Regions from separate parts of the Homo sapiens genome. Here regions 2, 3 and 4 are each linked to region 1. Evidence: fine-mapped expression QTL. A gene starts in region 1. Each other region holds a variant in brackets. All regions are shown on one strand. Distances are between the middles of the regions.

Region 1 (4,165 bases):
AGCCAATCTAAAATTCTAGAATCCTCCAAATTTAATTTAATATCACATACTATACTGGGTTTACTCAAAACAGTGTCATTCTGGCTGGCGGCAGTGGCTCACGCCTATAATCCCAACACTTTCGAAGGCCAACGCAAGCGGATCACTTGAGGTCAAGAGTTCCAGGCCAGCCTGGCCAACATGGTGAAATCCCCGTCTCTACTAAAAATACAAAAATTAGCCAGCCGTGGTGGCGCACACTTGTAATCCCAGCTACTTGGGAGGCTGAGGTGGGAGGATTGCTAGAACCTGGCAGGCGGAGGTTGCAGTGAGCAGAGATCGCACTACTGCACTCCGGCCTGGGCGGGAGAGAGAGATTCTGTCTTAAAAAAAAAAAAAAAAAAAAAAAAAAAAAGTGTCATTCTGTAAGCTCTTCTAGCCTACCCAAGTCATAGGCCCTATAAAGGGAAGACTTTCTGCATGCCATCAATGTCTCCTGTCCTACTGAACAGCCCTGAATCTGAAAGGGGAAGGTCCCCACCACCTCTCCATGGACAAATCACAAACATTTCACATTGAAAAAAATAATAATAATCTCCTGTAATTCAACCCAGGCCTCTTATGGCATTACCATTCACATATGAGAAAGTTGAACCTTAACTAGAAAAGTATATGGTTTTGGGGTTTTGTTTTGTTTTGTTTTGTTTGTTTGGGTTGTGGAAAAATAGATGTCAGAATCAAGATACTACAACAGTAAGAATTTAGGCCTGGGTCTGGAAAGGACATTTGAACATCAATATGTAATAGCAGTCCATGTCCAAAACTCACAAGTGAGATTATCAAATTCCAGGGGAGTCTATTAATGTGGCCAAAAAATCTACCCCATAATTTTGACATAAGTTTTCCAGTCCAAAATACAACCTACAGTATCATCTTATGGGTCCGGAAATGCCATACATCAAGCAAAATTACTACCGGAGAAATAACACTGTAATCATTTGCGGAGCAGTCTGACCAGGGTTCCCTCAGTTACGCCAACCGCCCCCAATCATCCTACCCACCTAAGTACTACCAGGTCAGGGGGATGCCCTGCTGCACGATCGGGCGGTCACTCCTCCTTTCCACAAGGCCCAGGCCCGCACCGTTCGCCCCGGGGCTCCCATGGCCCCTGACCTCCAGTATCCGGCAACGATGGACCGCCACAGACCCGGCAGGGGGCGAAGGGCGCACACCCACCTCCCGGGAGTTCGTGGGAATAACTCCGGGCGCTCCGAGGGTACGTCCCACACCCAGAGCCGCACGGGCCCATCCCCGCCAGGTCTGGGAAGGCAGCCCGAGCCCGGGACCCCGCCTCCCCCGCATCTAGGGTCCGGGCCGAGCTCGGCCGCCGAGCTCCCATTCCCACTCCCACACCCAGCGCCTCCCCCTGGCGGCGACAGCCGCCGGGGACGCCCCTCCCCGGGCCCCGCACGCAGTCCCCAGCCCTCCCAGGGCGCTGCCTCCTCAGAGGGTGACAGCCGCCTGGCCAGGGCCGGGGCCGAGGCCGGCCCCTCCTCCAGCTCTTCCTCACCCGCCGAGGAGACGGAGGACGGGGATGGGGTTCTTACCGGGCAGCAGGACATGGCGAGGCCCTCCACGGCACAGTCTCCCCCTCCGCCACCCCACCAGGCTCCCTGCCAGGGCCGGCGCTGGGCAGCGCCTGAGCCGCTGGGACGTCTCGTCCGGCTGCTACTCCGCCGCCGCCGCCGCCTTCTCACAACCACAACAACATGGCGGCAGCGGCCACACAGAGCGCGCTCCCGACGCCGAGCCGGGCGACGAGCGAGGACGCGCGCGCACGCTCGGGCGCTGAGCCCGGTGTCCGGGAAAGGGGGCGGGTCTCCGCCGGTTGGACGGGGGCGGGGCCTGGACAGGTGGTCACGCCCCAGGAGATGGGCGGGGCTGCAGCTGGGGAGAGGCTCGCGAAAAAGCCCAGCGGAGCAAGAATGGCTAGACAGATGGGAAATGGGTGGAGGAAAAGAGATGACAAAAAAAAATCTGGAAGAAAACCAAAGGTGGTCCTACAGATTTTTAGGAGGCGTCTTTTCCAAGCTCTGTAACCCTGGGCAAGACATGGCTCACTCTACTTACCAGAAAAATAGAACAATAGTGGTATCTTCCACCTGCAATTGTGGTCAGGATAAAACCAGTTTAATATAATGCAAGTAAATATAGTGTTTTAGAAGTTGTATTCAGAATACAATTTCTTTTCTTTTCTTTTCTTTTTTTTTTTTTTTTTTTTTTTTTTGAGACAGAGTCTGGCTCTGTCGCCCAGGCTGGAGTGCAGTGGCATCTCGGCTCACTGCAACCTCTGCCTCCCGGGCTCAAGCGATCCTCACACCTCAGCCTCCTGAGTAGCTGAGACTACAGACTCACAACATCATGCCCGGCTAAATTTTGTATTTTTTGTAGAGATGAGGTTTCTGCCATTTTGTCCAGGCTGATCTCAAACTCCTGGGCTGAAGCAATCCACCCACCTCGGCCTCCCAAAGCGCTGGGATTACAGGCATGAACCACCGCATCCGGTCCAGAATACAATTTCAAACTGATTCAACTTCAGCTCCTAATCAAAAGCTCAGCGGGAAGAAGTGAGTTTTCAAACAAAGTAAAAAACAACTCCCCCAAAAAATTGTAACCTACCCACACTAGCCTGCAGAATTCCACAAACCAGGATTGCATTACCGTAGGCCCTAACAGATTCACCTCCTCTGAGTTGCCTTTTAACATTCTACCCTTGACTTTTCTGGAAACTGGGAGAACTAGTCAAATGAAATCTATTCCTGCGTCTGTTGTAAAGTTTTTCCACAGCACTTTCTGAAATTTATTTTCAATGTTTACTGTCATTTTACTCCACTAAAATGTAAAAGCTACTTGAAGATAAGGATCTTGTCTTGTTCGTCACTGTTTCCCCAGCACCTAGAACTGTGCAGGTTAAGTAGTAGGCAGTCGAATTTCTTGATTAACTAACAGCTGGCTGGGCGCGGGGGCTCACGCCTGTAATCCCAGCACTTTGGGAGGCCAAGGTGAGTGGATCACCTGAACTCAGGTGTTCGATACCAGCCTGGCCAACTTGGTGAAACCCCGGATCTACTAAAAATACAAAAGTTAGCTGGGCATGGTGGCGGGCGCCTGTAATCCCAGCTACTTGGGAGGCTGAGGCAGGAGAATAACTTGAACCCGGGAGGCGGAGGTTGCAGTGAGCTGAGACTGCGCCACCGCACTCCAGCCTGGGCGACAGAGCAAGACTCCGTCTCAAAAAAACGAAACTAAACTAACAGCTAACATTTATTCATACAACTCATCTAATTGAATCTTCACAACTTTAATAGGTAGATGCCATTATCTCCATATTACAGATGAAGAAAGTGAAGCACAGAATAAATTGCGTGTATTAAAACAAAATTCAAACCCAGCAGACAAAAAAAAAAAAAAAATACTGTGCTGTCTTACCCACCAGGCTGTACTGCCCAGTGCATGGACACAGTAGCCTGAAATAAAATCTCAAGTAAGAAATTACTTTAGGCCGGGCGCAGTGGCTCATGCCTGAAATCCCAGCACTTTAGGAGGCCGAGGCAGGTGGATTGCTTGAGCTCAGGAGTTCGAGACCAGCCTAGGCAACATGGCGAAATCCCATCTCTACAAAAAATACCAAAAAACTGGCCAGGCGTGGTGGTGCACGCCTGTAGTCCCAGCTATTTGAGAGGCTGAGGTGGGAGAATGGCTTGAGCCTGGGAGGCAGAGGTTGCAGTGAGCCCTGATTGTGCCACTGCACTCCAATCTGGGTGTCAGAGAGAGAAAAAAGAAAGAACGAAATAAATTACTTTAGAGTTAAAAGCTTGGAAAGCCCTTGCTTTACTACCAGAAAAACCGGTGTGCTTCCTGCTTTTTGATAACTGTTACGCATCTGATTGTGTCTCTCTTTTCACTCTGGCTTCCAGAAAGCCCAGGGCTAAATGTGAAGCTCAGCAATGACCTCTTCTTGGCCCTTGAGGGTCCACTCCTGCCTCAACTTTGCACCTGTATTTATATGTGGCTGCCCTGATTTTCCCTTTCTGTTCTATGACTGACTATAGGCTTAATGGAATGGGAGAAGAAACAGTAAATACTAAAATTGATGAATGATTTAAAGTTTTTTTATTTTATTTTA
Region 2 (4,139 bases), 150 kb before region 1:
GCTGAGGCGGGCATTTCACCTGACGTCAGGAGTTCAACCAGCCTGGCCAACATGGTGAAACCCTATCTCTACAAAAATACAAAAATTAGCTGGGCATGATGGTGGGTGCCTGTAATTCCAGCTACTCAAGAGGCTGAGGCGGGAGAATCACTTGAATCTGGGAAGCGGAGGTTGCAGCGAGTCGAGATCGCGCCACTGCACTCCAGCCTGGGTAACAAAGTGAGACTCTGTCTCAAAATAAATAAAACTAAAACACATATATGAACTTTAGTTTGTCTTCTTCAGCTAGTGATTCATTTGTAACTTAGTGCAAAACTCAGATTGGAATGCTTCAAAGTCAAATGTTTTCCCCTGTAAGGTGGAAGCGAGAGCAGGGTCTAGTTTCAACACACAGTGGAATAGAAGTGCTGCCTGGCTCTGATTGATTGTTCCAAATGCCTGCTAGAAGCCAGAGACAGAAATGCTATCATCTATCTATCTCATTTCATGGGACAGTGGGGAGGACAGCATTTGCTAGGCCCCCACCTTCCCACTCCATTTATATGCCATGTGCTCTGCTACAGATGAGGAAATGTCTCCGAGTTCCTCATACACCCATGAGCAACTCAGCTGGTGCTGCAGGGCTAGGATCCCACCCCAGGTCTGTGGGCTCTAAAACACAGGGGCTTTCCACCAAACTGGTGATTTTCAAACCAACTTTTGTGGCACTGCCTCAGGAGAATTTGTCCTGATATTAATAAATAATGTCCTGATAAATATTAATAACCGTCTTTTAAACTATATACACCCAAAGGTTTAAAACACATTCAGTGAGGCTGCTTGAGACTTCACTGTACAGTCTGTATTGCTGTGTGTGTGTGTGTGGCCTTTGCAGGGGTCACTGACTGGGAGGGCACCAGCTTAGTGCTGTGATCATTAGGCCCAGGGCCAACTCAGACCTGGTGGCCCTGAGCATAAAGTAATTTTAGTGCTTATAAATCTTTGGGTGTCTCTCATCTGATATATGGATGATAAAGACTGAAAGCAGGTTTTGGATATTCTTCTATTAATCCCTTTTTTCAGGCATGTACTTCAGTTTTGTCAACAAGAGATTGCAGGCAAGCTGTGACTACTACCATTTGCAACCGCTTACCTATAAAACTCAAATTTTTTAAAATTAAACTCCCCCATATTATATAACAACTAAAACAAAATCCAGAAATTGGATGCTGGGACAGTTCACAGTGAACCTATCATCTGCACTAATGAAAAATGCTCCCTCCCCAAGCCCACTGATTTTAAGATGTTATGACTTAAACTGTGATGATTCATGCTAATAACATATCATTTGTTTTTATGTATTTGAAAAGTTAAAAACAAAAACACTGGATTAGACTATCACAACATTTTGATTTTGGTTAAGAGGGAGAGAAGGGCTCATAATTCAAGCCTTGTGATGGCAATTGCCTAAGCTCCTCGCTGAGATTTCAACGAGAACCAATACAGCTATTTACATCAGGCTTTCTGGAGGCCCAAGAGCACAAGAAGAGGGTTAGGAGTCGGGAAAGTATTTTCCTTTTTTTATGGGACAGGGTCTCCCTCTGTTGCCCAGGCTGGAGTGCAGTGGCGTGATCATGGCTCACCACAGCCTGAAACTCCTAGGCTCAAGAGATCCTCCCACCTTAGGCTCCCAAGTAGCTGGGACTACAGGTGTGCACCACCATTCCTGACTAGTTTATTCATATTTTTTGTAGAGACAGGTTTATTTATATTTTTCGTAGAGATGGGTCTCAACATATTGCCCAGGCTGGTCTTGAACTCTTGGGCTCAAGTGATCCTCCCACCTCGGCCTCCCAAAGTGCTGGGATTACAGGCATGAACCACTGTGCCTGGCCAAGAATGACTTTTATTCAAATTTTGCTGTTAACTCATTGGTAATCTGGATGTCTTTGGCCCTCTCTGAGTCTCAGTTTCCTCAATGAAAAAGGAGGAGATTGGATTAGTGATTTTCAGACTTTTTATTTTAAGAAACAAACAAAACCTTTCTTCATACCAGATCTTACTTTTAAATCTAATAAAGCTTTGAATGGGCCTGGAGGCTCCCTCTCCACGAGGCCCCAGAGAACAGTATGAAAACCGTGGAAGTAGGTGACCTAAGGTCCCTTCCGCCTCTAAACATCAGGAATCCATGAACCCTGCCTCTGGAAGATAAATAGTGACCCCCCCCCCGCCCCCTCCTCGCTGAGAGCCCCTCTCTCCTAAGAGGCTGAGCTGATTCATACCCTGCACCTACGACACTGGATTATAGCACTGGCAGGAGAACCACAGTGACAACCCAAATCCAGGGGCTCAACAACTGTTTGTGGGTGAAAATGACAGATTTATTCAACTTAAATGGTCACCGAGGCTACAGCAGAACCAATGCTGTTACAATAGGCAAGCACTACTGTCAGCAGCAACATACCATTTATTTCTTCAACAGCATCTGAGCCTCATGGGTTATGTTTTCATTAAAAAAAAA[AATCTT/T]ATAAGCTAGTTGGGAAGCTGTTAAAGGCCAATTTTAAATGGCAATGTAAAACAAATTTCACTGAAAATACAATTCAAATACAACTGCTATGAGCACTGTAAGAAAAACTGACTAGTTACTCAGATATAATAGAAAAGACCTTAAATGGTAAATAAAACAATAGCAGCATTTAAAAACCTGGTAACTCCCATTTCAGAAGACGCCCTTCCCCTGCCCAGACCTTCATGCCTCTGAACACCTGCCTAGCCTAGGAGAGGCCTGTTCAAGCAGGGAGGCTACTGGTATCTGCACACAACATGCAGATGAGCTCTACACCAGCCGAGAGGAACAAGGCTTCAGTGCAGTTGTGTGCTGGGGACAGCAGGACTCGTGTTTAAGTGTCAGAGGCTTAGAGGGGTCAGCTCTGAACTAGAAGTCTCTCACATATCTGGTCCTGCCCTTGAGAAATCTTGTCAGTAATCTCAACTTAGAACAACTTTCTGGAAAATGTGACTAGAAATTAAACAGCTGGGACTCCTGCCACATTATCCAAAAGTCCAAATGGATAGTCACTTTGCTCCACAGCCCAGGGTCCACTTTAAATTCTGCTGTTAGCCCTCACCTACTGCAATCAGGTGGATACAGCTGCAGCCCTGGGGACAGGTCACTTGAACTGGCAGCAGCTAAATGAAATCCTGCAACAGCACCTTCAAATCAGCCCTCATTCCCAAAAGATCAATAGAGGTCAGGGCTAGAGTTAACTTCAACAGGCATGGGATCTCCCAGCCTCATGTGCAAGCAGGCAAGTATATCAGGATATGCCTTTAATTCTCATCTTGATGTTTTTTAATAGCCAGAGATTGTTTAACAGGTCCTCCAGCACCTTCTGTTCATTCTCCTTTAGATCTACCACAGTAACATTCTAATTCATAGAATATTCTTTGCTAACATGAAAAGAGTTAGCATATAAGCAAAATTATTACAGGAAAACTTTTCTGTACATCCTCATAGAGAATCTCAGTGGATTAAGGCAGCTGTAACTTGTTTTGGACTGCAGTTACAGAGGCCAAGGTATAGAAGAAAGGTAACGAGAGTGCCAGGATAGGAAAGTTCTGAGATGAAGACAACCTGGCAGCTCAAAGTCACAGTTCATGCCCTGTTGCTTCAGACCAAATTCCCTCTACAGCCTGAAGCAAGCTGGCCTTGCCCACAGAGAACTGCCTTTCTCCATATGCAGCCACCTCCCTCAGGGCAATTCCTTGCCTTGGATCCTCACTGCACCTGCTTCACCAGCATCTTGGCTCTTCATCTCCCTACCCCCAGAGAAGCTTTCCATTTAGGAGCTCGCAACGCCCTTCCTAGGCCATGCCAGTGTTTTAATTTGCTGGAGACTAGCCCACAGGAACAATAGTGGCTGTGTGTAGACACGATGGCCATGGCACACACTCATGGTTTTCACAACTTCATATGAATACACAGACTGGGCTGCCTGGCGGACTGAGGGTAGCTGAGATGGCACATTCTCCTTCCACAGAAGAATGATTTCTTGTTTTCAAACGCCTGCTGGGTGGCACTTACGGCTTTCACACTAGAACCAGCTCAGCTGGCTCTTTGTGTTTGTATACTTTAGGTAGAAGGTACATTCAGAAAGTGA
Region 3 (4,165 bases), 25 kb after region 1:
GGGAAAGGTGAGCCTGAAATCACTTAGAAAAGAAAATAAATGAATTAGATCCATAAATTTGGTTGAAGGCAAGAAGGATTTTATGATGGAAAGAATAGCATGTTTAAACTGTCTGATTTTTAAATGAAGAATAGGAAGGATAAGATTTTTTTAACTTCATATTTTGAAAAAACTGTAGACTCACGAGAAGTTGCAAAATAGTACAGAGAAGTTCTGTGTACCTATCATCCAACTTCCCCCAATGGTAACATCTTACGTAACTATAGTGCATTACCAAAGTCAGGAAATTAATTGGCAATTAACAAGACTACAGACTTACTCAGATTACACTAGTTTAGGAAGCATAATATATGTTTACAATTTTATTTTACACATAAAGTACACAAATCTTAAGTGTACAGCCTGACATAGTTTTATATATGTAAACACTCATGTAACCAACATCTCTATCAAGATATAGAATGTTATCAGCCCCCAATGTTACCAACTCCCTCGTGTTCCCTATAATCAATAACTGCCTTCCCACATAACCACTTTTTTTTTTTTGAGACAGGGTCTCACTCTGTCACCCAGACTGAAGTGCAGTGGTGTGATCACAGCTCACTGCAGCCTTGACCTCCTGGGTTTAAGTGAACCTCCCACCTCAGCCTCCCAAGTAGCTGGGACTACAGGCATGTGCCACCATGCCCAGCTAATTTTTTTGTACTTTTTATAGAGATGGGGGGGTCTCATCATGTCGCCTAGGCTGGCCTCGAACTCTCAGACTCAAGCTATCTGCCTGCCTCGGCCTCCCAAAGTGCTGGGATTATAGGCATGAGCCACCTCGCCTGGCCCACTATTCTTTTATTGCTGTAGATTAGTTTGTCTTATTTTGAACTTTATATAAATGGAACCGTACAGTATATTCTCTTTTATTTTTGATATATATATATATCTGTGTCTGTGTGTGTGTGTATATGTATATATATGCATATATATCTTTTTATCGCTCTATCGCCCAGGCTGGAGTGCAATGACTCAATCATAGCTCATTGCAACCTCAAACTTCTGGGTTCAGGTGATCCTCCTGCCTCAGCCTCCTGGGTAGCTGGGACTACAGGCATGTGCCACTTTGTCTAGCTAATTAAAATATTTTTTAGGCCGGGCACGTTGGCTCATGCCTGTAATCCCAACACTTTGGGAAGCTGAGGTGGGCGGATCACGAGGTCAAGAGATTGAGACCATCCTAGCCAACATGGTGAAACCCCGTCTCTACTAAAAATAAAAAAAACTCTCCCTCTCCCTCTCCCTCTCCCTCTCCCTCCCTCTCCCTCTCTTTCCACGGTCTCCCTCTCCCTCTCCCTCTCTTTCCACGGTCTCCCTCTCATGCCGAGCCTTCTCCCTCTCCCTCTCCCTCTCCCTCCCTCTCCCTCTCTTTCCATGGTCTCCCTCTCCCTCTCCCTCTCCCTCTCCCTCTCTTTCCACGGTCTCCCTCTCATGCCGAGCCGAAGCTGGACTGTGCTGCTGCCATCTCGGCTCACTGCAACCTCCCTGCCTGATTCTCCTGCCTCAGCCTGCCGAGTGCCTGCAATTGCAGGCGCGCGCCGCCACGCCTGACGGGTTTTCGTATTTTTTTGGTGGAGAGGGGGTTTCGCTGTGTTGGCCGGGCTGGTCTCCAGCTCCTAACCGCGAGTGATCCGCCAGCCTCGGCCTCCCGAGGTGCCGGGATTGCAGACGGAGTCTCGTTCACTCAGTGCTCAATGGTGCCCAGGCTGGAGTGCAGTGGCGTGATCTTGGCTACAACCTCCACCTCCCAGCCGCCTGCCTTGGCTCCCCAAAGTGCCGAGATTGCAGCCTCTGCCCGGCCGCTACCCCGTCTGGGAAGTGAGGAGCGTCTCTGCCTGGCCGCCCATCGTCTGGGATGTGAGGAGCCCCTCTGCCTGGCTGCCCAGTCTGGAAAGTGAGGAGCGTCTCTGCCCGGCCGCCATCCCACCTAGGAAGTGAGGAGCGCCTCTTCCCGGCCACCATCCCATCTAGGAAGTGAGGAGCGTCTCTGCCCGGCCGCCCATCGTCTGAGATGTGGGGAGCGCCTCTGCCCCACCGCCCCGTCTGGGAGGTGAGGAGCGTCTCTGCCCGGCCGCCCCGTCTGAGAAGTGAGGAGACCCTCCGCCTGGCAACCGCCCCATCTGAGAAGTGAGGAGCCCCTCCGCCCGGCTGCCATCCCGTCTGGGAAGTGAGGAGCGTCTCCGCCC[G/A]GCAGCCACCCCATCCGGAAGGGAGGTGGGGGTCAGCCCCCGCCAGGCCAGCCGCCCCGTCCGGGAGGGAGGTGGGGGGTCAGCCCCCGACCCGGCCAGCCACCCCTTCCGGGAGGTGAGGGGCGCCTCTGCCCGGCCGCCCCTACTGGGAAGTGAGGAGCCCCTCTGCCCGGCCAGCCACCCCGTCCGGGAGGGAGGTGGGGGAGTCAGCCCCCCGCCCGGCCAGCCGCCCCGTCCGGGAGGGAGGTGGGGAAGTCAGCCCCCCGCCCGGCCAGCCGCCCCGTCCGGGAGGGAGGTGGGGGAGTCAGCCCCCCGCCCGGCCAGCCGCCCTGTCCGGGAGATGAGGGGCGCCTCTGCCCGGCCGCCCCTACTGGGAAGTGAGGAGCCCCTCTGCCCGGCCACCACCCCGTCTGGGAGGTGTACCCAACAGCTCATTGAGAACGGGCCATGATGACAATGGCGGTTTTGTGGAATAGAAAGGGGGGAAAGGTGGGGAAAAGATTGAGAAATCGGATGGTTGCCGTGTCTGTGTAGAAAGAAGTAGACATGGGAGACTTTTCATTTTGTTCTGTACTAAGAAAAATTCTTCTGCCTTGGGGAAAAAAAATAAAAATAAAAATAAAAATAAAAATAAAAATATTAGCTGGGCGTGGTGGCGTGCGCCTGTAGTCCCAGCTACTCGGGAGGCTGAGGCAGGAGAATCACTTGAACCCAGGAGGCGGAGGTTGCAGTGAGCTGAGATCGCGCCACTGCACTCCAGCTTGGGCAACAGAGCGAGACTGTCTCAAAAAAAAAAAGTAAGAGGGTAGAAAGAACATATGCTGCCACTTGGGAAAATATATGGCTGGAGGAAAATAAACAATGCTTATATTGTTAGATTGTTGCATATTTATTTTCTTTCCATTTTTAATAATACAGTCTTTTTAAATTTGTGGTTATGTGAGTCTAAAATATTTGTGTATGTAAGTATATATTTGATGTATTAACATAATAATATTAACATACCATATTAACATACCGTAACACATGAACTAATTATTTTTCCATTTTTTATTTTTTTAGAGATGGGGTCTCACTATGTTGCCCAGGCTGGAGTGCAATTGCTGTTCACAGGTGTGATCATAGTACACTGCAGCCTCAAACTCCTGGCCTCAAGATGTCCTCCCATCTTGGTCTACCAAGCAGCTGGAATTATAGACGTGGCTTTCACTTTTATATATAATATAAAACCTGAGATTTCATTAACTCCCAATGTACCCTCAATTCAAATTATTAGACACTTTGAAGCCAGCTAATATTTATTCAACAAATACTGAGCACCTTCTCTGTGCCAGACACAAGCCTTGGCCCTGAGGACATGATTGGTGAACTAGACATAGTACTTGAATGTCTAGGAATTTATCACCTGCTGCGAGGGACAAACACATCAATAGACGAGTACAAGGCAATGTGCTAAGGTTTATTTTAGGCAACTTGGGAACTTACAGGAGGAACCTTACTCAGTTTGAGAAAGTCAGAAGGGCTTCCTAGAGGACATGGCACTCAGCTGAGACCTGAAAGATGATTCTAAGTATACCAGGTACAAGGGGAACAGGAGTAGGAAGAACATCTCCTGCAGTGGGACCAGCTGGGATACAGGCATGGGAGCTAGAGGGGTGAGATGGTCATGGAGTCACAGTTGACTCAACGGTGGGTGTTTATGGGACAAGATAAGATACAGTTGAAGAGGTTTAAATGCCCCACACAGTTCCTTGAACTGCCATGGAGAACCATTACAAAATATCAATCTGGGGCTCGTCAGTAACCATTCTATTTTGTTCCAAATTGCCCAGATATGCCTAACCATAAACTGAGATATTGACAAATATGTATAAACTGGGCTGTTTTCATGCCCTGCTGGCACTGCTGATTTTCTGTTACGGAGCTAAAGGATT
Region 4 (4,165 bases), 88 kb before region 1:
TGATCCCAGCACTTTGGGAGACTGAGGCAGGCACATCACCTGAGGTCAGGAGTTCGAGACCAGCCTGGCCAACATGGCGAAACCCCGTCTCTACTGAAAATACAAAAATTAGCTAAGCATGGTGGCAGGTGCCTGTAATTCTAGCTACTTGAGAGGCCGAGGCACAAGAATCGCTTGAACCCAGTAGGTGGAGGTTGCAGTGAGCCGAGATCGCACCACTGCACTCCAGCCTGGGCAACAGAGCAAGACTCTGTCTCAAGAAAAAAGAAAACGGAATACAACCATGGGTTCTGGTGGTAGAGTTATAAATGAGAATTTGTAAAAACTTGTAACAATGCTACTTTATGAGAAACTAAACAAAAACAAAAGATACATACATGGCCATGCTACTCCCCAACTAGTACACACAGAATCAACTCCCAAGCGTTGTCTAAAGCATCAGGCCAGGGAAAACACCAGGAAGACTTTCTGCTAGGCACCATGGAGAACCCAGCAGCACCAGGAAGAGGACCACACTGTTACTAGCCGTGTGGTATACAATGAAGGACAAACCCTCAATACAGAACAGAGCTGCTTTCATAAGCCCATCATTTGTTATTCATTAGCACTGGCTGAAATACTAGACAAGCACTTTTTCAATTCATTGAAAACTCTGTGGGAAAACCAATAAAATAAAATATAATCAAGAAAATAACAGGAAAAGTTCATCAATGTTTAGGTATAAGATAAATCATAAAGTTGTAATGCCCACAAACTAAGAAAAAATTGGCATGCCTTTAAGATAAGGGCAGTTACCTTTCTCTTCCTTTTAATATGACATTTCTGCACAACTAGTTTTTTTGTTTTACTTTTTCTAATTTTGAAAAGCATTTTCCATACGTCCCTAATGAAGCTTGAAATTAATGTAGCCTTTTCAATTCCTTCTCTGTGCATCAGCATAAAACAGTTTGGATCTAGGAAACATCACAAGGTAGAAGAAGGACAATATTACAGAGGACCATTTCTTTTTTAAGCCTTGAAGCACTGTTTACATTTCCTCAGGATTGATGAAAATGTGGCTGGCTTGTTGCTCCATCTTCTCTGCTTGAGCTGGGCCCGAAATGGCCCGTAAGTCATTAAATTGTCCATTAAATTCTCTTTCTGGTTAAAGATACAGGAGGGGGTGTGCAGGGCTGCTCCACCTACTATGGGATCAAAATACTGCCTTAAAGAGACAAAACAGGGAAGGTAGGGAATTGCTTCTATAAATTCATAAAGCATATATACTATGTGAAGTAATACATATGTTAATCAGCTTGATTTAGCCATTCCACAAGGTATATATGTATTTCAAAACATTATGCTGTACACAATATATATGTAATTTGTCAATTTAAAAAAATTTTTAAGTAAATATGCAGATTACCATCTTACAATTTGTCTACACACAAACACACACACACAGTTTTCACTACACGCTACTTCCTAGAAAAGGAATTAAAAACCTGGAGTCCGAGAACTGTATGTTTTAGTCTTGATTCCATTTACTTGCTGACTGAAAAATAAGAGACAACATCTAGCTCACAGGATTAAAGTTAACAGAAATGAAACTGCTCTGTATATTGGAGTACTCTATTACTACTAAGTAAACAAGAAAAGAAAAGACACAAGAGATCTGGGAAAGAAAAAGAAATAATTTCTTACAAAAACAAAAATGGGTAAGTATGAATTTATTAGTGTTCACTTAATTGTCAGGACACAGGGTTTTTTGTTTTTTTTTTTACTCTTATTTCCTTGTACTTACCATGACAAGAGGCCCAGATTAGGAGGAGAAATCCCCG[T/A]CCCTTCTTCAGTGTCCAACAAGGCTCTCTTCTTTCCCTTATGGTGAAGTCTGGGGGTGGGGGGGAAGAGGGGGAAGAAGAAAAAAAAAAGAGGAGGGGAGGCAAAATTGGCAATAGTTTTTCCCCTAATCGGCCATATCCTCACAAAGGTATTGTATATACACAGGCCTAAGAAGCTGATCAGAGTCAGCCAAGAAAAAGTTGATTATCACCCAGCCAATTCCCACTAGTCAAATCCCAATTTGACAGTTCCTTTGTAAAACTCCTGTTAGTCTTAACCTGTTTCTGCAAAAACAGTATCAAAGGCTAACATTCCTAATGTTCGTAGTAAAACAAAAAATATCATAAAACTTGGATGAATAAAGCAACAATTAAAATCAACCTACAGGCCAGGCAAGGTGGCTTAATGCCTATAATCCCAGCACTTTCGAAGGCTGAGGCAGATAGCCTGAGCTCAGAAGTTTGAGACCAGCCTGGGCAACAGAGTGAAACTCTGTCTCAAAAAAAAAAAAAAAAAAAAAAAAAAAAGCTGGTCATGGCAGCACATGCCTGTAGTCCCAGTTACTCAGGAGGATGAGGTGGGAGGATCAACTGAGCCTGGAAGGTTGGGGCTGTAGTATGCTGTGATTACACCACTGCACTCTAGTCTGGGCAACAGAGCAAGACTCTGTCTCAAAAAAATAAATAACATCAACCTGCAAATGCAAAATCATTATTCTTGTAGTATTTTAGGATGTTTTTGTGGTTATCTCTAAATTCAAAATGGATCCCCCATCTGAGGAAACCAAACTGACTTACGAGCAAAATAGGAAAAATAAATTTGCCTTATTACCCAAATATTCTATGCTCTTCTAAAAACTTACAATCTGTACTAATACCTTTACCTGGTTTTATAAGAACAAAAAAGGGGGAAAGAATATCCAACTAGAAACCCAAAAATAGGCTTATACAAAGAGTAAGTAAGTTGCTCTTTTCTTTGAACAGTCTCATGCAAAACCAACATTTCTAGTTTGCTAAGCTTCTGTAACACAGGATATTTCAGGGAGTCTGGGCTTCAATGTGCAGCATAAAACTCTTTTAAGGGCAATGTAAGCAAGGGAACAAGAGAACATAAAAGCAGTAGCAAGGCCCAGATTGTGTTGAGGCATTTTGAGCAGAGGAATGGTAGGAGATGACTTACTCTAAAGAATCATTTTGGCCGGGTGTGGTGGCTCACGCCTGTAATCCCAGCATTCTGGGAGGCCAAGGCAGGCAGATCACGAGGTCAGGAGTTCGAGACCAGCCTGGCCAACATAGTGAAACCCCATCTCTACTAAAAATACAAAAAATTAGCAGGGCATGGGGGTGTGTGCCTGTAGTCCCAGCTACTCGGGAGGCTAAGACAGGAGAATAACGTGAACCTGGGAGGCAGAGGTTGCAGTGAGCCGAGATCACGCCATTGCACATCCAGCCCAGGTGACAGTGTGAGACTCAGTCTCAAAAAAAAACCAAAAAAACAAAAAAAAGAATCATTTTGGCTGTTGGGTAGAGAACAGTCAAGGCTACTGGGGGTAAGGGGCAAAAGAAGACCAATTAGAAAGCGTCATTAACCCCAGCAAGAGACAATATAGCAATGAAAAGGTAGTAGAGATAGAAGTGGTGGGATGTTACTGATTCTGGATATACTTTGAAAATACTGCCCATAGGATTTGAGTGGATTAATTAAATAGGATAGAAAAAGAGAAGTCAAGCTTTTTGTGTCAGCAACCGGAAGCAAGGATTTTCTATTTATTGATGAAGAGCATTGTAAGAAAAATCTATTCTTCTCGTGCCATGCAGAGACAGCTCAACGGACAAGGAACAAGAAATTAAAGTTTCCATTTTAGACACATTATGTTTGAAAACCTATCACATATCCAAACAAAGATGCCAAGTAAAGTGCTAGTTAAACCAGACTAGAGATCAAGAAGATGGAGCCTAGAGATATAAACATAAATGTGGGAGACATCAGTGTGTGAATGGCATTAAAGCCAAATGCAGGAGCAAGTATAAATGGAGAGGCTAAGATGACTAAGGACAGGGGTTTTGGGTGCACCATTTTTTAGAGGCTGGAAGGATGAGGAAGAACCTTATGGTTCAGTAACAGACCAAGTTGGAGTCATCATTCTTAACCACTCTTCAAACCAAGCCAAACTTTTGTGATTTGGCCTAGCTCAAGAACTGAAACTAATGTAAAATTATCTCATTTATTCATTCTTTTCAATAAATATTTATTCAATATTTTCTACACTCCATGCACTGTTGTAGACTTTGGGGACACCACTGTGAACAGAAATTCATGGAACTTGATTTTATTGTTGGTCTTT

Alleles and levels. Alleles are on the strand shown, and positions count from the first base shown. SD is a standard deviation of normalised expression in the study named. Not every link is listed here.
For the expression in monocytes after interferon gamma of the gene that starts at base 1,772 in region 1, AATCTT is the low allele of the variant in region 2 and T is the other (moderate effect, 0.42 SD a copy in Fairfax 2014).

The links. PIP is the estimated chance that this variant, and not a neighbour inherited with it, causes the effect. A credible set is the group of variants that fine-mapping cannot tell apart.
Region 2: its variant is the best candidate, but not a certain one, in a credible set for the expression of MTMR3 in monocytes after interferon gamma (Fairfax 2014, PIP 0.75).
Region 3: its variant is the best candidate, but not a certain one, in a credible set for the expression of MTMR3 in lung (TOPMed, PIP 0.85).
Region 4: its variant is the best candidate, but not a certain one, in a credible set for the expression of MTMR3 in whole blood (TOPMed, PIP 0.85).

What each region holds. Positions count from the first base shown.
Region 1 is chr22:29,880,781-29,884,945 of GRCh38, reverse strand. It overlaps MTMR3 (myotubularin related protein 3), which reads right to left and starts at 1,772. Exons shown (of 20, transcript NM_021090.4): 1 at 1,587-1,772. RefSeq lists silencers at 1,230-1,729, 1,790-1,959 and an enhancer at 1,672-1,966.
Region 2 is chr22:30,028,708-30,032,846 of GRCh38, reverse strand. It overlaps MTMR3 (myotubularin related protein 3), which reads right to left. Exons shown (of 20, transcript NM_021090.4): 20 at 1,979-4,139. The region is part of intron 3 of HORMAD2-AS1 (HORMAD2 and MTMR3 antisense RNA 1); the gene reads left to right. Among named protein-coding and RNA genes, the nearest start is that of MIR6818, 24 kb to the right of the region's middle. The variant AATCTT/T (reference allele first, on the strand shown) is at 2,501.
Region 3 is chr22:29,856,253-29,860,417 of GRCh38, reverse strand. No RefSeq gene overlaps it. Among named protein-coding and RNA genes, the nearest start is that of ASCC2, 20 kb to the right of the region's middle. The variant G/A (reference allele first, on the strand shown) is at 2,232.
Region 4 is chr22:29,968,681-29,972,845 of GRCh38, reverse strand. It overlaps MTMR3 (myotubularin related protein 3), which reads right to left. Exons shown (of 20, transcript NM_021090.4): 3 at 1,784-1,870. The coding sequence starts at 1,786. Among named protein-coding and RNA genes, the nearest start is that of MIR6818, 36 kb to the left of the region's middle. The variant T/A (reference allele first, on the strand shown) is at 1,821.